Homo sapiens: one gene and its partners. The protein of the gene in region 2 purifies or fractionates together with the protein of the main gene of each other region. This does not show direct contact. Each region holds a gene or a part of one and is shown on either strand. Other genes may lie near its edges. The genes, in order: CNST, PPP1R3A, TPRN, PPP1R8, YLPM1, ADISSP and LMTK2.

Region 1 (3,500 bases), on a different chromosome or scaffold from region 2:
ATCTAAACTTGTCTCATACAAATATACAAACTTTATGGGACAGTGGTAGCCACCGCTTGGGGAAGGGAAGAATGAGGAGTGACTGCTAATGGGTACGTGATTTCTTCCTGGAGGATAAAATGTTCTGGAATTAAATTGTACAACTTTGTGAATATACTAAAACCACTAAATTGTACCCTTTAAAAAGGTGAATTTTATGGTATACGAATTACAAGTTTTTTAAAACTACATGGAGATAATCAAATAGTCAGATATTAACAGGTGTTGGTGAAGATGGAGAGAAACTGTAACCCTCATACAGTGCTGGCAGGACTGTAAAATGGTGCAGTTGCTTTGGAAAACTGTTTGGCATAAAGTTACCATATGATCCAGCAATTCCACTCCTAGAGATATATAACGAAGAGAAATGAAAACACATGTCTCTACAAAAACTTGTACAGCAATGTCCATAGAATAGTCAAAAAGTGGAAAGAACCCAAACATCCCTCAGCTGATGTATAAATGAAATACGGTCTATCCATGCAACAGAATATTATCTGACCACAAAAAGGAACAAAGTACTGATATATGCTACAAAATGGGTCAACCATGAAAACATGTTAAATGAAAGAAGCCAGTCAAAGACCTTCTATTGTATGATTCCACTAATATGCAATGTTCAGAGTAGACAAATCTGTAGAAAAAGTAAGTAGATTAATGGCTGCCTCAGGTTAGGATGTCTAAGTGGAAGTAAGAAGTGGGTGCTAATATGTAAGTGGCTGCTTTGTGTGGTGAAGAAAACATACTAAAATTGACTGCTGATGGTTACACATCCCTGTGAGTATACCAAAAATCAGTGAATTATATATTTTAAGTAGGTGAATTGCATGTATATGAATTACATCTTAATAAAACTGTTTAAAAAACACATTAATTTCCATTGTTTTTCTCCCCCCAGGTAAGAATGTGAAAAATAATAATAAATAAGTAATGGTCATTAGTTTTTAGGATAATATTTACCTAAAGCTTTGCCATTTTAACTACAGTGAAAAATTTTTTCTTTTTCTTTTTTTTTTTTTGAGACAGGATCTCACTCTGTCTCCAAGTTGGGGTGCAGTGGTGCAACCATGCAGCTCACTGCTGCTGTGATCCTCCCACCTCAGCCTCCCAAGTAGCTGGGACTACAGGCACGTGCCACCATGCCCAGCTAATTATTTTACTTTTTGTAGAGATGAGGTCTCCCTGTGTTGCCCAGGCTGGTCACAAACTCCTTGGCTCAAGCAATCCTCCACCTTGGCTTCTTAAAGTGCTACAATTATAGGCATGAGCCAGTGCACCCGCCCTATAATGAAAACTTGTTGTAACACAGCTTGAAATCCTGCTTAGTTAAGCATATCAAGGGGATTCAATTCTCTTAAGGGGGAAAAAAAAAAGCTCATTATATGATGACAACTGGACTTCCCTGAGGCTAAGATCAAGGTTTTACCCATTGACACAAATACTGCCTCCAGCAAACCCATAAACAGTGACATGTCTCCTAATGACATGACTATTAGGAATGACATGACTATTAGTGACAAGAGTCCTGCACTATCATTTTTTTTCCAGTACTAGCCTTTGGACAGTAGTAATTGAAAAATGACTACAAATTAAACTAGACAAGGGAGCATAGAGTGAATAAATTTACTTTATTTTACATGTTCTTTTTTTTGGTCTTTTTTTTCTTTATTTTTATATTTTACATTTTCTAAAAAGTGTTACAAGAACATCTACCTACAAAAAACTGCATTTCTGGTTTGCAACTGAATATCATGTTTTTTATATGTCATTTCACATTTGAGAAGCTATTCAATTATTAGAAAAGTACACGTCTGAAAAATTTGAAACTTTATTTACTTAGGAGCTAAGAATTTAACCGAAAAATTAGAGTAAACACATCCTTGTCTAAACTCCTATGCATAAACTCTTTGCATTATTTTTGACATGGAGGATGGAAGCAAGATGGGAAACAAATGTAGGGGGCTTTTGCAGTACTCCAGCTGAAGATGCTGCTGAACTGTGGCAGTGAAGATGGAGAGAAACAGACTGACTTGAGAGATCACAGGGAGATAACATTACTCAGACCGGGTGATGGATACGTACTGAGAGACGACAGGCTGAAGCAAGTTCTTAGGGTGGGGTCCCAGCAACTAAACTCTGAGGGAAGCTTTCCAGGCAATACTAAAGCTTCTTCCCATTCTAGGTCTCTTCCACATCTAGAAAGGATTAATTCCACACCCAAAAGAATCCTATTCAGTTTAAAATTAAGGGTCCCCCATCTCAAACACCTGTGCCCTGCTAACTCACCCCAGGACACTCAGTCCCGCCTCGTCCATGGCCAGCCCGGGCAGACAGGAGTATCCTTTCTTTTAATTTATCAACAAAACTTAAAAGACAAACAAAAATGTATCTGTAAAATATAAAAACTCTATAGATGCACTAGAGGTGAATCACCACATTTTATTCAAGTATAGAGTATACCATCTCTACTATGAAATCTAAGAAACTCACAGCTTAAAAAGGAATTTCATAGATTTAGGTAGATGAAGATCATCATTATACAGACGACAACAACAAGGTAGAGACTGCTTCAGTCTCACCAAGTGACCTGGAATCATAAGATTTGTACTTGGGTTTTATAACTCCTCATTCTGTTTTCTTACTCTTTTGAGACAAGGTCTGGCACTATCGCCTAGACTGGAGTGCAGTGGCAGGATCTTGGCTCACTGCAACCTCCGCCTCCCAGGCTCAAACCATTCTCTCACCTCAGCCTCCCAAGTAGCTGGGACTACAGGTGCATGCCACCAGGCCCAGCTAATTTTTGTATTTTTTTAGAGATGGGGTTTCACCATGTTGGCCAGGCTGGTCTCGAACTCCTGAGCGCAAGTGATCTGCCCTGTCAGCCTCCCAAAGTGCTGGGATTACAGGTGTGAGCCACCACGCCTGGCCTTTCTTACTCTCTTAAACTCACTTTATATAAGATATAGAAAATAATGTTTAAAGTAAGCTGTATAAAGACTATCCCTAGATTTTATAAATCATATGTTTCAAATGCATTAGGGAATAGTAATTCTAAACATATCTTCTCACAGTATTATAAATACTAAATAACTTTAAATTATAAGCTGGGCCCACTGGTGTATACCTGTAGTCCCAGGTACTCAAGAAGCTGAGATAAAAGGATCACTTGAACCCAGGAGTTTGAAACTAACCTGGGCAAGGTAGCATGATCCTGTCTCTAAAATAAATATAATAATAATATAATCACACCTAAGAAAAGTGGAATAAAGACCATGGAAGGGAGGAGTAAAAGGACTCACAATCTTAAAGCTATGACTGACTCATAGGTATGCAACTAAGTATCAGTTCTTAAAGACATCACAAGATGCCTGTAATCCCAACACTTTGGGAGGCCTAGGCAGGAGGATCGCTTGAGGCCAGAAATTCAAGATCAGCCTGGGCAACAGTGCGAGATTCTTTAT
Region 2 (3,500 bases):
TTTGATAGGGCCCTGGGCAATCGGATCCACTTCAGATATCTGCCCTTGAGGTCTTTTCCCCTGCATTATTTCCTGTTGAGGGGTAGGGGTAAAAACCTGGAATAGGGATGAGAGTCACAGTTAGCAGAAGTGGAGGAAGGTGAAAAACTAAGTTGACCCACTTCATAACGGTGCCATCTTTTTCTTCTTCCTTTTTTCTTTTCTTTTCTTTTTTTGCCAGGAGCATTTTTGGCTCAGAAATAGTGGGCTCTGCTTTATTTTTACAGGCTGCAGATGGGCTTCAGGTGGGGAGGGATAGGCTCTCAGAGATCCCAGAGGATCCATTTGAGGCATGGCATTCATAGTGACTCCTTTCAGCCACAGCATGAGAGACACCCTGAAGGAGGATACCCTTTTGTTCCTCTTCTCTCAGAAAAGTTTCAAAATCACTCTAGGGAAAGTCTAGGATGGGGTATGGATTTCCACAAAACCAGGAAACCATGAAGCCTTGGTGGACCTCCAAGGAAACTTGAAGCCAGTTGGCACCTCGCTGTCAACCAGCTGGCTGCTTTCAAACACCCTCCTGATGGGCCCTGCACAGCTGTGTTTTATGTTTCCACGTGGCCTTGCCAGAGGTCCCTCCTTAAACAGACCCAGCTTCCACAATTAGTGTGGACTCAAAACGAGTTAGTTATGGCATACGTGAGGTCCCAAAGGCCTCGTGGGGCTATTTACACCTCTTTGGACTATTTCCAGGACCCCAGATTATACTGTATGCGTAAATTAAGGAAGTCTCACAATCCAACAGCTCTGACTGAAACACACAATGTAGCCATATCTTAGACCCCATTTCCCAATGCTTTTCTTGGCCTCATTTTCACAATTTTACCACCCTGAAAGATAAACCCTCTGTATTCTTAAAATTATGTTTTAGAAAGGAGTTCTCTCTTTCCTGTTCCTGAACGTACCTGGTTTTTTTCCTACAGTACAAAAATTGAGGACTAATCAATTTTCTCCTTTGGCATTAAAGTCATTTAGGACTTTATTTGCATTCACCTGGCCAAGTTATAAATACCATCAAACACCTATATCATGCAGTTTCTTTACTTAAAATAATAAATTGGTTTCACTTAATAAAATACAAAACCAGATGAACTCAACCGGTGTACCCAGCCATTAGGAACATACATTTAGCAGGCAGTGGGGAAAAAAAGCCAAGATGCTGAGAAGGGAGACCACCCCCCAGGCCAGTAAGTACACAGTGTCAGCTCTAGGTCACATATTCTAGAAAACCTCAAGTGGAAATAATTCTTATTTCATTTTTTATCTATGGCTTCTACTGTATACCCAGAGAATCTGAACTTGGTTTTGGTGTTTTCTCTCTTCCCTTCATTTCTCTCTGCTTTTCAAGGCCTTTTCCCTTGGGGCCTCTTCTTGTCTTCACAGGCGCCTGTCTCCAGCCACATTTCTCAGTTATCGATACTGCTGCCTAACAACTCAGAACCTGACATACAGTTCTTTAGTAAACATTTGTTGAATAAGTTTTGGAGCCTGAAACAAGGAAACCTATGATGTATGGAGAAATAATGCAAGTTCAAGAGTCAGGACATTAGCTGAACAAGATTTGATAATAAAAGGGACAATTGTGATGAAGGGCTTTTGATGATATCCTCATGTGTGTCTAACATGCTATATTAAAAGCTTTAAGTATATAAACTTATTTTAATCAATGTGACACTAGACATCATGACCCTTATTTGACAGGTGAATAAACTGAGGCTTTGAGCTCTGAAGTAATATGCCCACAGCCACATAGCTACTAAGTGTAAACTTTACTGAAATTAATATGCATGTCTGTTCAATCCTAAATGAATGCCTTTTTATCCCTTTTGGTCTAGTTCTTCATTTTTTCATCTATTAAATGTGGAAATTTTAACATTCCTAAGTTCTCTTCCAGCTTTAAGATAATTCATATATAAAGTGACACATTTCTCAAGAAAATTTACAGTTCAGTTAGTCTTCCTTGTTGATTAAAATCTTGCAAGAGACAAAGGAATGGCTCTCCAAAGCTGAAAATTTAGAAGCCCTGAAATGAAAGAGGAGAAGAACTTTGGTGCAGCTTGAGCCTTGCAGTTTTTCAGATACACCTAAAGCTGAAGTTACCATTGTCTTTTTACAGCAGTTAACATTTACTGATAACTTATTATGTTCCAGACACTGTGCTAAAAGTTTATATGTATTACTTCACCGAAATCTCAACCCCTATGAGATAGAGCTGTAGTTGTTCTCAATTAACATACCAGAAAAACAAGCTTAACTTGCCCAAGTTCATATTGCTAGCATGTAGGAGAGCTTGGATTCAAACTCAGATATCTTTAACTTTGAAGCCTAAAATCCTAACTTTGAGGTTATATTGTTTTGCATGCCATTTTAGCTTATTTGTCTATGTACATTTAATGTGATTTATATCAATGTCATTTTTGTCATTGATTTTAAAATAAAACCCATCAGATATATCAGGAATCTGCTTAGTTTGCTAGCATATGTGGTGATACTTAAGTATCTCATGATGCATGCCTTTCGGTGCAATTAAATATCTTTGGGTCACTCTCAATCACATGCCTATGAGTTACAAGCTCTGCCTCCCCTTCTCTCTACATATTTCTTTCTGTCCAAAGTGTACAGACTATCAGGCATCAAAAGAAAATAGACAACCCACACCAATGTGGAGATTTGCAAACTCTTAACATGAGAAAAATCTCCATAGAGAAAACATAATGCCTGGGTGGGTGATTGACTTAACAGAAATCCTACCTAAATGTATTTCCACATTCATTCATTCCATACTTATTAGAAGGGATTATTGACACTTTCAGAAGATACAATCTCAGGCACCCTGATAGCAAATTAACTTTTTTATTAAGAAGAATTGAAGTTAGCTGTTATTCTCTACACTAGGGCAGCCTGATTTTCATTTTAGCTATGACTGATATTACATACTATTACTAATCTATTTGCAGGTATAAAGAAAAAATCATATATATATATGTATGTATATGTATATACATATATACATATACATATATACATACATATACATACATATATACATATACATATATATACACATACATATATATACATATATATATTCTGTTTTTACCTTCTGAAAGAAATAACCTCCAAATTAAGCTACATAGGAAGTGTAGAAATGCTCAGAAATGACCCATTTAGATTCTGTAACTATTTGGAGAGAAGAGATTTTAGTAGCTATAATTTTTGATCAAATAAGTATTAGTTCATTTTTATTTTAGTCAAGTACACATTTTGTAAAATAACACCGATAAGGTGTGCTATTTTTCTCTAACCAAACTCTTCACAATAAAATCCAACTGCAATATTCATTTAGAAATTTGATAATGCTCTCTTGTGTGAGTTTTAGGAATATTTGAAACCCCATTGCATATAAATTATATCATGGAAAAGCTGTATAAATATTCTATTATGGCACATGCTGTTCT
Region 3 (3,311 bases), on a different chromosome or scaffold from region 2:
AGCAGCAAATGGGGTTTCCAGTCGCCCTGGATATGTGGAGCTAACCCAGATGACCCCGAAGCCCTCCAGGCCCAGCCCCCACGGCTGAGAACACAGAAGGGCTGGCTGCCAGGGCCGCGGGATTAGTGCCCTCACTCGTGCACATGACCGGTCCCAGCAGGGGGGCCGCGGGGGCTGGGTGCACATGGGCCCTGAGCCTGGTACAGCCTGGCCAGGCGGTGCGGGGCGGGGGGTGGACAGGCAGCCCCTGTCTGCCCTCAGCTGGGGCCCGGGGCTCTGGTCACGTCCTGCCTCCCCAGGTCTCCTCAGCTGGGCTGGTGCCTGCTGACTCGCACAGCCCTCCCCTCCCACTGTGGGGACAGGACACCCCGTGACTCATACGGTGGGCAGCCTGAAGACCCCGAGACGCAGGATGGGCAGAGGGTGTGGCCAGGGTCTGGGACCGCACGCACCTGGCCGCAGCCTATCAGGGACTTTGCCTGGCACAGCCAACAGAGCAGGCAGGTGGGTCCCAGCTCAGCCCAGCCTCCCAGCAGAGCCTCCCGGCTTCTCAGGACCCTTCTGTTCTCGCTCCACCCACCCTGCCTGTGCACACCTAGCTTTGGTTACCAAAGGGCCTGGCCTCCACCTGGGACAAAGGGCCAAGCAGCCAGCCCCAACCTGCCCAGATGGAGGTGTGAGCTGAGCCCAGCCCCGCCTCTCCCTCCTCCCTGCACACAGCTACCTGCCTCCCATCCCCCACGCAGCCCCAGCCAAGGCTCCCACGGGTGGCCGGACCCTAGACCAGGCTGCACGAGTGCAATGCCCAGAGCAGGCTCCCGGGAAGCTGGGTGCTCCCTGAGTCAAGTGTGGCCCCAGCGCCAGGCACGGCCTCCACCCATGAGAAAGCTGAGGGAGGAGCGTCCAGGCCGCTCCTGGGGTTCCCGGCTTCAGAAGGACCACCTAGGCGGCACCTATGGGAAGAGCTGGCGGAGAGACGAGAAGGAAAGGAAAACTGACAAGAAGGGACTCAGCCAACAACAGTGAGAGCCTCTGGCCACCCAGGATCTGCCTGCACAGGGGTAGAGGCAGGGAGGAGCCCAGCCTGGGGCTTGGTGCTGGCCAGGAGGTGGTGTCAGTAGGAAGGGCAGATGTCAGGGTGGCTCTTGGGTCTAAGGATCAGAGAGCGAGGCCTTGGGAGTGGAGGCGGAAGTTGCACAGCAGGTGAGGGCGGACGGCCCTGGGTGTCCAGGACTGAGCCCTGGGGACACTGACACGCTCCAGCTGGGCAGAGAGCCAAGAGGGGAGGAGGGGAGTAGGGCAGAGGGGACGGGAAGGGGCCGCCAGACAGGTAGGAGCCAGGCCAGGTGGTGCTCCACGAAGAGGAAAAGCTACAGCGCCGAGTCTCAAGGGAGGCAGGTGTGAGGATGAGAATGGGTGTCCCACCCTCCAGGAAAGCAGCCCGGGCGTGGCTGCAGCACACAGCAGTCTGCTCCAAGCTCAGCCCTGCAAGACGGGGCACCTGCCGCTTCTGCCAATGGATAACTTAAGTGGGCCTGTGCCTGCCAGGCAGGCCCCCACCCCGGCACACAGGCCAGCAGCTCCCCACTGCCCAGAGCAGGGCTGCACCCCTCGGAGGCGGGCAAGGGTATCATACCCTGTGCAGGCACAGCCAGCCCTGGGGCAGGCCCCTCACCGACTCCCACCACCCAGACAACTCCACTGAAGAGCTGCCCTTCACCTGTACCCCAGGAAAAGCAGCAGCACCGCCAGCCGCTGAGGTGCACAGTGAGCCGTTGGCCCACAGTCAGGTCCTGCTAGACTCCGGGCCCTGCAATCCCTGCACTCCACCCCCACGCCCGGGGGTCACAGCCAGTGGTCCCAACCAAAGGCTGGGGTCAGCACGGTGGCTCACGCCTGTAATCCCAGCACTTTGGGAGGCTAAGGCAGGCGGATCATCTGAGGTCAGGAGTTCGAGACCAACCTGGCCAATATGGTAAAACCTCGTCTCTACTAAAAATACGATAATTAGCTGGGCATGGTGGCAGGCGCCTGTAATCCCAGCTACTTGAGAGGCTGAGGCAGGAGAATCGCTTGAACCCTGGGAGATGAAGTTTGCCCTGAGCCGGGATCCTGCCACTACCCTCCAGCCTGGGCGACAGAGCAAGACTCTGTCTCAAAAAACAAAAAATAAAAAAAGGCTGGCCAGGGTGGTCAGACAAGGCCAGGCACAGGACCCGCAGGGGCACCTCGCACCCCCACCAGTGAGTGCTCCTGGCCCAGGGGCCACAGAGTACATGGGACAGCCCTGCCCCACAGCCCACCGTGCCGAGGCCAGCAAGCCATTCTGAAAGGCAGGGCAGCCCCACGCCTCTGTCCCCTCCTGATGGACATTCTGGCTCTTCCCAGGCAGGGCAGCTGGCCTGTACCCAGGCGGGAAGTCACAGCCAGCAGGTCATGCTGCTCTGGCAGGGCCCTGCCCGGGCCACCTGGCCATGCCAGGTATCGTCCATCTGGACCCCCACCCCTTCAGGCTGGCCCGAGCTCCTCCCTCCTGCTGGTCCAGGGCCTGTTTCCCAGGCTCAGCCTCTCCCCCACTGCATCTTCCTGCTCCTGTTGGCCCTCCGGCCCCCACCCTGCCCTTCTGACCCTAACCCAGCCGCAAATGACCCCCACAGTTCTGTCCCTTCTTTGCTTTTTTCTTTTTGAGACAGAGTCTCACTCTGTCGCCCAGGCTGGAGTGCAATGGCGCGATCTCGGCTCACTGCAAGCTCCGCCTCCCGGGTTCAAGCAATTCTCCTGCCTCAGTCTCCTGAATAGCTGGGATTATAGGCGCCCGCCACCACGCCCAGCTAATTTTTTTATATCTTCTTAGTAGAGACGGGGTTTCACCACCTTGGCAAGGCTTGTCTTGAACTCCTGACCTCGTGATCCACCCGCCTCGGCCTCCCAAAGTGCTGGGATTACAAGGTGTGAGCCACCGCGCCCAGCCCAGTTCTGTCCCTTCTGAGGGCAAGATGGCCAGACTCTAGGCAGTGGCCTCAAGTCCCAGGAAGAAGCCAGGCTCCCAGGGATGGCCACACAGGTTAAGGGGAGGGGTTCTAGAAACAGAAACCTGAACTCCGTACTCGCCCCACAAGCCCCATGACCCCGTCTGACTCCCAAGCTGAGGCGCAGTTTCTCTCTACAAAGGGGGAGCTGTCCCCACTGCCACCTCTGGGGCAAGCCCAGGAGGTGCCCACCTCACACAGCAGCCAGGGCCAAAGGTACAGACGCAGGGGAGGGAGAGGCAGACAGGAGCTGGAGGAGAGAGGCTGTGGCTATCAGACTGA
Region 4 (2,197 bases), on a different chromosome or scaffold from region 2:
TCCTAACTTCTAGCCTGTTCTCCTTTCCAGACAACCTATTTCATGATGTTGAAATCTTACGGTTTGAAGAGACCTTTCCAGTCATCTACGATGGTTCCCAAACACTGCTCCATAACAAAGTTTTCACCATCCTACATCAGCCAAGGATGGTGTTGTGAGTTTTACATAAAGTAAAACATATCAATTTAATTTATCCTAAAGTTACATAGCTCACTTTCTTATTTCATATTAAAATGCCCTTTTAGGAGGAACACATGAGATCAGGAGTTTGAGACCAGCCTGGCCAACATGGCAAAACCCCATCTCTACTAAAAATACAAAAATTAGCCAGGCGTGGTGGCAGGTGCCTGTAATCACAGCTACTCGGGAGGCTGAGGCACAAGAATCACTTGAGGCAGAGTTTGCAATGAGCTGAGATGGTGCCACTGCACTGCAGCCTGGGTGACAGAGTAAGACTCTGTCTCAAAAATAAAAAACATTTTTAAAAAAATCCCTTTTAGGAAATGGAAATGATAAAAGATGGCAATAGATATTTTACCCTTTTTTGAGGGGGAAAAAATGTGGTATGTCCATGTTTGGTGTGCAATTTTTTTTTTTTTTTTTTTTTGAGACAGAGTTTCACTCTTGTTGCCCAGGCTGGAGTGTAATGGCTCGATCTCAGCTCACAGCAACTTCTGCCTCCCGGGTTCAAGCCATTCTCCTGCCTCAGCCTCCGGAGTAGCTGGGATTACAGGCATGCGCCACCACGCCTGGCTAATTTTGTATTTTTAGTAGAGACAGGGTTTCTCCATGTTGGTCAGGCTGGTCTTGAACTCCGGACCTCAGGTGATCAGCCCGCCTCGGCCTCCCAAAGTGCTGGGATTACAGGCGTGACCCAGCACGCCCGACCTGGTGTCCAATTTTTAAACATTAATCTGAGAGCAAAACCAATCTACAGTGAAGAAAATATTTACTGGCTGCCTGGGCCTGGGAGTGGGCTGCTGCAAAGGGCTACGAGGCAACTTTTTGGAGTGAGAGAAATCTTCTCTATCTTGATTATGGTGGTGGTTACACATATATTTGCCAAAACTATATACGTAAATGTGTAGATTTTATTATATGTAAATTATACTGCAATAAAATTGACATAAAACTATACACCTGTTGATTTTGTACTTTAATGACAAGAAAACATTCCAAAGGAATAACAAACAAACAAAAAAGCTCAAGGGGCATTATGGAATCCCACAGAAAAACATCTACTTTTCCATACTAGACTAAAGCTCATGAAACATCCTGCTCAATCCTATACTCCTTTTGGATTAAACAAAGTCTAAGCAGGAACTCTGACAGATCTTACTTAGTCTAATATATTTTAGAGATTTTTTTTTTATAAAAAGTAAAACTTTCTATATCATCTCTAACCAGCATTTTCTAATCACCTTCTGAATATTAACAGGGATCTCACTACTCTTAAGGGGAAGTTTGTTGCTGTTTGGACAGTTCTAGCTATCTGATAGTTCTTCCACATGCTGAACGATCGGAGCATCTCTGTAACTTCTACCCCTTGGTTCTTCAACATACAATCTTTTTTATTTAGATGGAGTCTCGCTGACGACCAGGCTGGAGTGCAGTGGTGTGATCTCGGCTCACTGCAAGCTCTGCCCCCCGGGTTCACGCCATTCTCCTGCCTCAGCCTCCTGAGTAGCTGGGACTATAGGCGCCCACCACCACGCCCAACTAATTTTTTTTTGTATTTTCAGTAGCGACGGGGTTTCACCGTGTTCGCCAGGATGGTCTCGATCTCCTGACCTTGTAATCTGCCCACCTCGGCCTCCCAAAGTGCTGGGATTACAGGCGTGAGCCACCGCACCCAGCCAACATACTTATCTTTAAATTTAATCCACATCTGGGCTGACATTCCTATCTGTGCCATTGCCACTCATAAAATAAAGGCATGGCAAACTGTGTGGTATTGCAATAATGCATCTCCTCCACCTAATAGCTTACTTTGAGTCCGAAGAGAAAGGCCAAAAGAAGGTGGGCCTCTCTCTGCACCCCTCTGGAAAATGAATTTACAGATTCATATTGCACATTATTTACATGAAACATCAAGCTGGCTAGTTATCTACAGCCTTTCTGTGGTACTCCAGGATTCCCTAAACATAGATTTCATTTCCACAGAATGAGAAATGGGAGAGGAGCATGGTATGTATTT
Region 5 (3,500 bases), on a different chromosome or scaffold from region 2:
GTAGGTCAATTTCTCTTTTTTTTTTCTTGAGATGGAGTCTCGCTCTGTCGCCCAGGCTGGAGCGCAGTGGCGCGATCTCGGCTCACTGCAAGCTCCGCCTCCCGAGTTCACGCCATTCTCCTGCCTCAGCCTCCTGAGTAGTTGGGACTACAGGCGCCCGCCACCACGCCCGGCTAATTTTTTATATTTTTTAGTAGAGACGGGGTTTCACCATGTTAGCCAGGATGGTCTCGATCTCCTGACCTTGTGATCCGCCCACCTCAGCCTCCCAAAGTGCTGGGATTACAGGCGTGAGCCACCGTGCCCGGCCGCCTTGTAGGTCAATTTCTATTTAATATGAACCCTATAAGTAGTAACCAGATCTAATTCAATCCTATGGTAGGCTTCAGCACATTTTTGAAGCTCTGCAAATAAATAATAATGATATCACTCACAAATGTCCTTACTGACCCTAAGAGAAGTGTGATCATCCCTATTTTAGAAAGAAAAAAAATGCCTGAACTTGCTAATGATGCCAGCTCTTCTGAATGTCCCATCATATCAGATAACTCCATTTCATATGGGATGTTGTTTTATAGGTAGAGGGAAATCATAATATAGGTCACATTTAAAACGAGATTGAATGAAGGGATTTCAAACATAAAGAATGTAGAACTATTGGCTGGGTGCGGTGGCTCACATCTGTAATCCCAGCACTTTGGGAGGCCAAGGCGGGCGGATCACAAGGTGAGGAGTTCGAGACCAGCCTGACCAACATGGTGAAACCCTGTCTCTACTAAAAATACAAAACTTAGCTGGGTGTGGTGGCACATGCCTGTAATCCCAGCTACTCGGGAGGCTGAGGCAGGAGAATCGCTTGAACCTGGGAGGCGGAGGTTGCAGTGAGCCCAGATCCTCGCGCCACTGCACTTCAGCCTGGGTGAGAGCGAGACTCCATCTCAAAAAAAAAAAAAAAATTAAGAATATAGAACTATTTGTCACAAATACTGTTATTAAGAAAGATGCTGCCGAGGCACGAATATCGCTTGAGCCCAGGAATTCAGACCAGCCTGGGCAACATGGCAAGATCCCATCTCTCTGAGAAAAAAAAAAAAAAAAGAAAGATGTTGATTTTAATTTACTCAGGAAGCACTTACTGACCACTGCTGCTAGTAATGAACTAGATACTAAATGATTTTCCAAGTGGAGAACTATAAAGGAGGTGAGTGTTTGTGTGTAATGTTTTAAAGATTAATTTTAGAAGATTACCTTCCCTATCCAGGTTATCATAAATGCCTATAAGACAATGTTCTATGTCTTATATTCTAAAGCAGGGGGCAGGGAGGACACCTGGTAAAATAATGAATTGGGTTTCCATTTTAGAAATTTATTTAAAATAGGCTTAAATATTTTTGAGATTCACATTCTACTGTAAGAATCAGGGTCACCAGATAAGCTTAGTCCCCACCTATTTTTATTTTAAATGCTCATTTACTTCATCTATTCCTCCAGCTCCTTCCCTCATTCTCTCTCTCCTTCAGTCAAACTTCTTGAAAGAGTTGTCTGTACTCACCATCCCCATTTCCTCACCTTCCATCACTCCTCAAATCAATGCAATATGGCTTCAGTCACTATGAAACTGCTCCTGCCAAGGTCAACAATAATCTACATGTCAGTAGGTGCAAAAGATAACTCGCAGTCTTTATCTTGCTTGACGTCTCAGCAGTACTTCACACAGCTGACGACTCCCTCCTCCTAGAGTCTGTTCCTTGACGTTCATGGCAACGCACTATCCACTATCTTGATTTTCCACCTATCACACTGGTGCCAAAGTAACTGTGGTTTTGCCATTAAAAGTAATAGCAAAAACTGCAATTACTTTTGCACCAACCTAATATGAATACCTATTTGGCCATTCTTTCATTGGTTCCCTTAGATACTGCTATTTGTGGAGCTAGGCTTAATGTCCTTTAACCTCAGTTCTTACTCTACACACATTCCTTGAGAGGCTTCATCTATTTCTGTGTCTTCAAATACCATTTTTATGCTGATGACTTATAAATCTATGTCTCCCAGATCTTACATCTAGACTCCAGAGCTATATCTAACTTCCAAGTGGACATCTCCATTTGGAATCTATGTCTCAAGAACCCCAAACTCAGTATGTCTGAAACCTAACTCATGATTTTCTCCTCACCCCCAGAAATGTTCTTCCTCCTCCTCCTTTAGGTTTTTCTGTTTTAGTAAATTTGACCACCATCCACCCTACGGCCCAGCCCAGAAACCTAAGAATCATTCTTGATGCCTCCCTCTCCATAACTACTCAACCTCAAAGTGAATTCTAGCAGCTAAATATTTCTCCACTCTTCCCACTTCTCTCCATCTCAACTAATACCATCAAAGTCTAAACCACTATTATCTCTTGCCTGGATTACTTCAATAACTATTCTCTCTAAATCACTCTTGCTCCTTTTAATTCTGCTCTCCACACTGCAAGCAGAGTGAGCTTTCAAAAATGCCAATCTGTCACATTCACCTATGTAAAATCCTTCAATGGCTTCCAACTGCCCTTAGAATGAAGTCCTTACAGGCCTTCCCTGATCTAGTTCATACCTACCATCCTCACCCTGAGCTTTCAGTGAGCCTTATTGAACTTAATTCTTTGAATTCTAACTTCTGGTTAATTTCTACTCTTTTTCTTTTTTTTTAACTGAGATGGAGTCCCACTCTGTCGCCCAGGCTAGAGAGCAGTGGGGCAATCTTGGCTCACTGCAACCTCTGCCTCCTGGGTTCAAGTGATCCTCCCACCTCAGCCTCCCAAGTAGCTGAGATTAAAAGCGTGCACCACCACACCCAGCTAATTTTTTGTATTTGTAGTAGAGACAGAATTTCACCATGTTGGCCAGGCTGGTCTTGAACTCCTGACTTCAAGTGATCCGCCTGCCTTGGCCTCCCAAAGTGCTGAGATTACAGGCATCAGCCACTGCACCTGGCCTACTCATTTTTTTTTTTTTTAGGTCTCACTCTGTTGCCCAGGCTAGAGTGCAGTGGCACGAGAACTCCTGGGCTTAAACAATCCTCCCACCTCAGCCACCCGCAAGTAGCCGGCACTACAGGCATGCAACACCATGCCTGGCTAGGTTTTTTTTTTTTTTGAGTCGGAGTCTCACTCTGTCGCCCAGGCTGGAGTGCAGTGGCGCGATCTCGGCTCACTGCAAGCTCCGCCTCCCGGGTTCACACCATTCTCCTGCCTCAGCTTCCTGAGAAGTTGGGACTACAGGCGCCCACCACCACGCCCGGCTAATTTTTTGTATTTTTAGTAGAGATGGGGTTTCACCATGTTAGCCAGGATGGTCTTGATCTTCTGACCTCGTGATCTGCCCGCCTAGGCCTCCCAAAGTGCTGGGATTACAGGCGTGAGCCACTGCGCCCGGCCACCTGGCTAGTTTTTTAAACTTTTTGTGGGCGGGGGGCGGGGGGGGGGGTGTCTCACTTTGTTGCCCAGGCTGGCCTTGAACTCC
Region 6 (3,500 bases), on a different chromosome or scaffold from region 2:
CTAAACCAGAGGGGAAGGTTGACAGGAAGCAGATACTCACAGGCGCCCAAGCGTCACTGACAGAGGACCTGGTATGGTTTTTGTTTTTTTTTTTTTTCTGAGACGGAGTTTCACTCTTGTCACCCAGGCTGGGATGCAATGGCACGATCTCGGCTAACTGCAACATCTGCCTCCTGGGTTCGAGCGACTCTCCCACCTCAGCATCCCGAGTAGCTGGGACTACAGGCGCCCGCCACCACGCCTAGCTAATTTTTGTATTTTTAGTAGAGACAGGGTTTCACCATGTTGGCCAGGCTGGTCTCGAACTCCTGACCTCAAGCAATCCGCTCACTTCGGCCTCCCAAAGTGTTGGGATTACAGGTGTGAGCCACCATGCCTGGCCGAGGACCTGGTGTTTAAGAGGAATGGCACAAGTTTGCAATGGAGGTATGTGACTTCTCCCAGTCACACACTGGTCTATCTCTCTACTCTCTGCAGGACAGCCTGTCACACTGATGCCTCCTGAAGTAAGGCAGCCCAAAGTCACAGCATCACTGACAAGGGATTCCTGCCAAAAAGGTTTAACCTGGAATCTAAACCAGCCTCTAACTTCAACTTCTCATTTGCTAAAAACACAGAGGAGAGGGGAACAAATTTAATGACTCCATGAGAAAGCAATGAGACGAGCCCAGAAGGCAGGATATTCTACAGGATGACTGACCTGTTTTTTGTTTTTGTTTTTGTTTTCAAATGTCAAGAAGAAAAAGAAAGCAGGCTGGGAACGGTGGCTCACGCCTGTAATCCCAGCACTTTCACGGATCACAAGGTAAGGAGTTCAAGACCAGCCTGGCCAACATAGTGAAACCCAGTCTCTACCAAAAGTACAAAGATTAGCCGGGTGTGGTGGCGGGCAGCTGTAGTCCCAGCTAGTTGGGAGGTTGAGGCAGGAGAATCACTTGAATCCGGAAGGCGGAGGTTGCAGTGAGCCAAGATCGCGCCACGGCACTTCAGCCTGGGTGACACAGCGAGACTCTGTCTCAAGAAAAAAAAAAAAGAAAGAAGAAAAATAAAACGAGGGAGATTATTCTAGATAGGAAAGCAGCAAACTACAGCTGATTACACAGCTGATGGTAAGGTTGCTGCCTGTTGTGTTTTTGTTTTTGTTTTTGAGACAGGGTCTCACTCTGTCCAGCCCAGGCTGGAGTCCAGCTCACTGCCACCGTAATCTCCCAGGCTCAAGCAATCCTCCCACCCCAGCCTGCCAAGTAGCTGAGACCACAGCCACGCACCACCATGCCCGGCTAATTTTTGTAGAGACAGAGTTGCCCAGGCTGGTCTCAAACTCCGGAGCTTAAGCGATCCACCCACCTCAGCCTCCCAAAGTGCTGGGATTACAGACGTGAGCCGCCAGGCCTGGCAAATAAATTTTTGCAAATAAAGTTTTACTAATAGAACACTACACTTCATTCACTTACATGTTGTCTGTTTTTGCACTAAAACAAAGTTACTTCCAAGTAGTTATGATAGAGACCATATGGCCTGCAAAGTCTAAACCATTTATTATTTGGCCCTTCAGAGCAAAAGTTTGCCAACCCTTGTTCTAGATCAACACACACTTAACAGACCAAAAAAGGATAATCTTCAGGACAACTGACCTGTTTTTTTCACCACATCAGCTGCAAGAAGAAAAATAAAGGAGAGGGTGTTTCGAACTACCTATCAAAGAAGACATTTTGGGGGGTGCCGGGCGCTGCGGCTCACACCTGTAATCCCAGCACTTTGGGAAGCCAAGGCGGGTAGATCACCTGAGGTCAGGAGTTTGGGACCAGCCTGGCCAACATGGCGAAACCCCATCTCTACTAAAAATACAAAAATCAGCTAGGCATGGTGGTGTGCACCTGTAATCCCAGCTACTCAGGAGGCTGAGGCAGGAGAATCGCTTGAACCTGGGAGGCGGAGGTTGCAGTGAGCCAAGATCCCGCCACTGCACTCCAGCCTGGGTGACAGAGCGAGACTCTGTCTCAAAAAAAAAAAAAAAAAAAAGGCCGGGTGAGGTGGCTCACGCCTGTAATCACAGCACTGTGGGAGGCTGAGGCGGGCGGATCACCTGAGGTCGGGAGTTCAAGACCAGCCTGGCCAACATGGAGAAACCCTGTCTCTACTAAAAAATACAAAATTAGCCAGGCGTGGTGGCGCATGCCTGTAATCCAGCTACTCGGGAGGCTGAGGCAGGAGAATCGCTTGAACCCAGGAGGCGGAGGTTGCGGTGAGCCGAGATTGCGCCACTGCACTCTAGCCTGGGCAAAAGGAGCAAAACTCCGTCTCAAAAAAAAAAAAAAAAAGACATTTGGGGGATCTGGAAAATGTAAATGGCCTGGATATGAGGTAACACTAAGAAATGAGTTGATCATGGAATTGTATTATGTAAAGAATTATGTCCTTATTTTGTCAGGGAAACATACTGAACAACTTAGAGATGAGTGACACTGGCTCATCAGTCCAGGGACAGAAGAGGAACTACAGGGTGGCCTCATAGTTTAGGGCTGGGCCTGTGGAGGGCATGATCTCAAGGTCCCTCTGGTGCCAAGCTGCTCTGGGAGCAGATGTGGCCTCACCTCGCTCCCCACTTCTCAATGTGGGCAAAGTCCACCCAGGCCCAAGCCCTGCCTCATGGGCAGGGTGTTCACAGTTTGGGTACCACCAGGAGCCCCCTTTGGCCAATGGACCAGGCCAGCAACCCCCTCTTGGAGGTGAGCTTCCAGGCCCCAGCCCAGGGTGCAGGAAGTGGAGCTACACCCATTCACCTCTGGCCAGGGCCACTGTGGGGTCAGTTGCCTCAGCCCTGGAAAGCTCAGCTTGTCCCCAGGGAACTTGGTCTTGGAGAGCAGCCTGCCGTAACCGCCCCCCGACTACAGCTGCCCCCAAAGCTGTGAACTCAGAGTATATGACAAATGGCCAAGCACAAGAGTGTGAGGCCCTCCTATCCTGCAGAGGCTGCTCCAGCCACACCTCTGCAGCCAGGAGGCAGTGACAGCCCAGTGTCCTCAAGGTCCCCCCATCTCCCAGGATGCTTCCTGAAGGCTCTGGTTAAACTGCACCAGTGGCTGGTGAGCAAAGGCTGCAGGCCCTTTTCACAAAACACTCTGAACTGGTCCATGCAGGGCACCCTCCCTGTCTTCCTCCCAACCTACTGCCTGACCGTCCCCCCGCCCTGCCTTTGCCCAGGTCATCCCTTCAGCCAGGAACAATCCCGTCCCTCCCAGCCACACCTTCGACAGGGTCTCAGCCCCAACATTTCTTTTTTAAGGATGCACACCCTGCAAATCCCAGGACAGGACTACAGCTCTTTTTGGAATCCCCTTTCTCATGTCTGGGATCATTTGATATCCCTCTTCCTCACCTTACAAGGGTAGTGACTGTGTTTTTGTCAAACCCTGTGTCCCCGGCACTCAGCGCAGCACCAGACAGGGAGGAGCTGTGTTTGGTTTATGTTTGTTGAATGAATGACCACATCACATTTG
Region 7 (3,500 bases), about 16 Mb from region 2:
GATCCACCTGCCTTGGCCTTCCAAAGTGCTGAGATTACAGGCGTGAGCCACCACAACCAGCCAAGATTGTTCTTTAATCTGAAACCAATAATCAACAGCACAATAGCAAAAAAAGAGGCATTTCTGTTAAAATGAGGAAGACCATGCCTCCTATTTGCTACTGAATACCACCCTAGAAGTTTTGGCCAATGAAAAAAGTACAAAACAGAGATAATAGGTGTAATTATGTGGATGAGATGACTATCAACTTTTAAGTACTCAATAAATTATTGGAAAGACCATCAGAATGTTCTAAAAATTTGGCAGAATTGCTGGAAACAAGATAAATACCCTGAATTCTGATTTTTTTTTTTTGGTAGAAAAATACACCTATTAACAACATTAGTAAACACCAGAAACCATCTAAAAGGAATCTTTACATGGGCAAGACGATATCCTCTCTGTGAGACCCACAAGTTTGGTTTGAGTTACTCCTCAGTATCGTGGGTTTTGCTGCTATTCTGAAGGGATCCCCCATCACGCTGGCAGCTGTGTGCCAGGAGAGACCCTGAGGGCTGCCTCACCACAGCAGGAACGCCCTTCTCAGTCCCAGCCCAATCCTCTCTCACACTGCGGTGCTCTGTCCCCATGGAAACAGCCTCTGCTGGCTTCCTGGGTCAGAGGAGCTGCCTCTCATTTCCTCCACGAGGTCTCTGCATTTCCTCCCCACCACGCACTGCCTCCATCCCGCATTTGTGTCTATTTACTGCAATGTTCCCGAACGTGACTCTCATCTGTGTCCTCTGGGAAGCCGTGAACACACACACTGCTAGGTCAGATCCACCCCTAAAGGATGCTTAGTTGGTAGATCCAGGTGTGGCCTAGAAAACTCACGTTTTAAAAAGTTCCCCAGTGATTCTGATGTCCAGCTAACCCTCCACGACACGCCCCAAACAACAAAGAAGCAACTACATTTTGACAAAAATCACTAAAGGAGAGCACCAGAGCCCATCAAAGGAGTAACAGGTACTCAGGAGATTCAGGACAGCCACAGCGAGAGCGGAAGGAAACGCCTGGCCTCCACCACCCCATCCCTGGCAGGCGCAGCCAGGAACCAGGAGCAACTTTCTCTTCCAGGTAAGGGCAAGTAAGAGGATCTCACTGTGGACCCCTACATCCTCACACTGCTCACCGTGGACACTACAGTCCTCACACTGGGGTCGCCTGGGGTCCTCACAGGCAGTAAGCCCAGCTGAAGAATTCAATAAATGAAATAAAAAGAAATACAGAACTTCAACAACAGACTCAAGCAGAAGAACCTCTCAACTTGAAGAAAGGTTGTTTGAAATCACCCAGTCAGAGGGAAAAAGACAGAAGAATGAAAAGGAGTGAAGGGAGGCTTCAGGGCTTATGGGAGACTACAGTGCAAACAAATACACACATTATGGGAGTTACAGAAATAAAAGAGCTAGGAGAAGGCAGAGAAAGGCTATTTAAGGAAAGAACAGCTTAAAAACTTCCCAAGTCTTGGGAGAGATACAGACATCCAGATCCAGGAAGCTCAAAGGTCCTTAAAATACAATCAACCCCAAAAGGTCATTTCAGAGGCACATTATAGTCAAATTGTCAAAAGCCAAAGACAAAGATAAAAATTCTAAAAACAGCCAGAGAAAAGCATTAAGTCACATAGGAGGGAAGCAGAGAATAGGATGGTATACTCAAAGTACTGAAATTGGCAGCCAAGAACACTATGCCCTGCAAAGATATCCTTCGGAAATGAAGGAGGGTTGGGCGCGATGGCTCATGACTATAATCCCAGCACTCTAGGAGACTAAGGCATGAGGATTGCTTGGGGCCAGGAGTTCAAGACCAGCCTGGGCAACACAGCATGACCTCGTCTCTACTAAAAAAATATATATAATAATAACTTTTTTTAAAAAATGGAGAAATAAAGTCTTTCCCAGATAAGCAAAAACTGAAGGAATTCATCATTATGAGACATGCCTTAAGAGAAATGGTCCAGGAGTCCTGTATCTGGAAGCTAAAGGAGGATAACCATCAACATGAAAAAACACAGAAGTATCAGACTCACGATACACTAGGTAGAGCAGATACACAAGGGGGAAAGAAAAAGGAAGAAAACCTCATCACTCGTGGAAGATAAAAAGGTTGATCTCATAGAAGTAGAGAGTAGAAGAGTGATTACTTGAGGCAGGGAAGGGGAGGGAGAGGAGGAATAGTGAGAAGCTGACTAACGAATACAAAATTTCGGCTGGGAAGGAGGAATAAGATCTAGTGTTCTAAAGCACTGAAGGGTGACTATAATTAACAACAAATTTTTGTATATTTTCAAACAGCTCTAAGAGCGGCTTTTGAATGTTCCCAAAAACAAAAAGAAAAAATGATACATGTCTGGAGTGAAGGGGATACTAGTTACCCTGATTTGATCATCACACACTGTATATAGGTATCAAAATATTACACTGGGCCAGGTGCGGTGGCTCACGCCTGTAATCCCAGTACTTTGGGAGGACGAGGCAGGCGGATCACTTGAGTTCAGGAGTTCGAGACCAGCCATGGCAAAACTCCATCTCTACTAAAAGTACAAAAATGGTGTGGTAGTACATATTGGTAATCCCAATTACTCGGGAGGCTGAGGCACAAGAATTACTTGAACCAGGGAGGTGGACACTGCAGTGAGCCGTGAGCCGAGACTACACCACTGTACTCCAGCCTGGGCGACAGTGAGACTCTATCTCAAAACAACAACAACAACAACAACAACAAAAACATATATATATATCACTGTACCCCATAAATATGTCCAATTATATGCATCAATGAAAAAAATAATAAAAGCAAAAAAATTGTTTTAAAGAAATCAATCCAAAAGAAAGCAAGGAGAGAAAAAAAAAAGCAGGACAACAGCACATAAAACATAGCTATAAATTAAGAAGGCTGTGACAGAAATTGTTAGTCAAAGTTTTAGGTGCATCTTTTTAGCTCCCATTAAACTGACTCCTATAAATCATAGTATAAACATGATAGTCCACACCCCTTTCAGTTTCTTCTTTCACTTCAATAAATACATATTAAATATCTATTACATGTCAGGCCCTGTGGGAGGCACAGAATATGAAACAGACTTGGTTCCTGCTTTTCTAAAGGAAAATGGGTAGCAGGGGCAGTATTCAAAACGTTAACTCCATCACCACAATTGTGATAATTACTATTTGTGTCTTTTAAACTGTCTTTTTCACACCATCAGATACTCTTTTGTTCCTACATCTTATACAACTACTTTCCTTTAAGGAAGTACTCAAAGAGGAAGAAGTTAGGACTTTGCCAAAGAAATGACTAATAAAACGGTAAGCCAATACGTACCAGATATTACTATACTTAGTCTGATCTGCAGTTAGCAGTCTGTCTTGAAAGCTGGTTACTAATTCTGGAGCAGTCCATCGCAGAGGGAAAACTTTTTTATCATCTGTTTCAATATAATCCTCCTGTTTTGTTAGAAA

Evidence for each region.
Region 1: the proteins of PPP1R3A (region 2) and CNST purify together in Homo sapiens (affinity purification with mass spectrometry, with the first as the bait; one large-scale study listed by BioGRID). This does not show direct contact.
Region 3: the proteins of PPP1R3A (region 2) and TPRN purify together in Homo sapiens (affinity purification with mass spectrometry, with the first as the bait; one large-scale study listed by BioGRID). This does not show direct contact.
Region 4: the proteins of PPP1R3A (region 2) and PPP1R8 purify together in Homo sapiens (affinity purification with mass spectrometry, with the first as the bait; one large-scale study listed by BioGRID). This does not show direct contact.
Region 5: the proteins of PPP1R3A (region 2) and YLPM1 purify together in Homo sapiens (affinity purification with mass spectrometry, with the first as the bait; one large-scale study listed by BioGRID). This does not show direct contact.
Region 6: the proteins of PPP1R3A (region 2) and ADISSP purify together in Homo sapiens (affinity purification with mass spectrometry, with the first as the bait; one large-scale study listed by BioGRID). This does not show direct contact.
Region 7: the proteins of PPP1R3A (region 2) and LMTK2 purify together in Homo sapiens (affinity purification with mass spectrometry, with the first as the bait; one large-scale study listed by BioGRID). This does not show direct contact.

Annotation. Positions count from the first base shown.
Region 1 is NC_000001.11:246,593,956-246,597,455, reverse strand, and holds part of CNST (consortin), read right to left. Parts: intron 1-3,500. UniProt on the Homo sapiens protein: Required for targeting of connexins to the plasma membrane.
Region 2 is NC_000007.14:113,912,510-113,916,009, forward strand, and holds part of PPP1R3A (protein phosphatase 1 regulatory subunit 3A), read right to left. Parts: intron 1-3,500. UniProt on the Homo sapiens protein: Seems to act as a glycogen-targeting subunit for PP1. PP1 is essential for cell division, and participates in the regulation of glycogen metabolism, muscle contractility and protein synthesis.
Region 3 is NC_000009.12:137,194,431-137,197,741, forward strand, and holds part of TPRN (taperin), read right to left. Parts: intron 1-3,311. UniProt on the Homo sapiens protein: Essential for hearing. Required for maintenance of stereocilia on both inner and outer hair cells. Necessary for the integrity of the stereociliary rootlet.
Region 4 is NC_000001.11:27,847,782-27,849,978, reverse strand, and holds part of PPP1R8 (nuclear inhibitor of protein phosphatase 1), read right to left. Parts: intron 1-2,197. UniProt on the Homo sapiens protein: Inhibitor subunit of the major nuclear protein phosphatase-1 (PP-1). It has RNA-binding activity but does not cleave RNA and may target PP-1 to RNA-associated substrates. May also be involved in pre-mRNA splicing.
Region 5 is NC_000014.9:74,769,816-74,773,315, reverse strand, and holds part of YLPM1 (YLP motif-containing protein 1), read right to left. Parts: intron 1,625-3,500; exon of another isoform or gene 1,570-1,624; intron 1-1,569. UniProt on the Homo sapiens protein: Plays a role in the reduction of telomerase activity during differentiation of embryonic stem cells by binding to the core promoter of TERT and controlling its down-regulation.
Region 6 is NC_000020.11:3,761,254-3,764,753, forward strand, and holds part of ADISSP (adipose-secreted signaling protein), read right to left. Parts: intron 1-3,500. UniProt on the Homo sapiens protein: Adipocyte-secreted protein (adipokine) that acts as a key regulator for white adipose tissue (WAT) thermogenesis and glucose homeostasis at least in part through activation of protein kinase A (PKA).
Region 7 is NC_000007.14:98,186,862-98,190,361, reverse strand, and holds part of LMTK2 (serine/threonine-protein kinase LMTK2 precursor), read right to left. Parts: intron 3,486-3,500; coding exon 3,364-3,485; intron 1-3,363. UniProt on the Homo sapiens protein: Phosphorylates PPP1C, phosphorylase b and CFTR.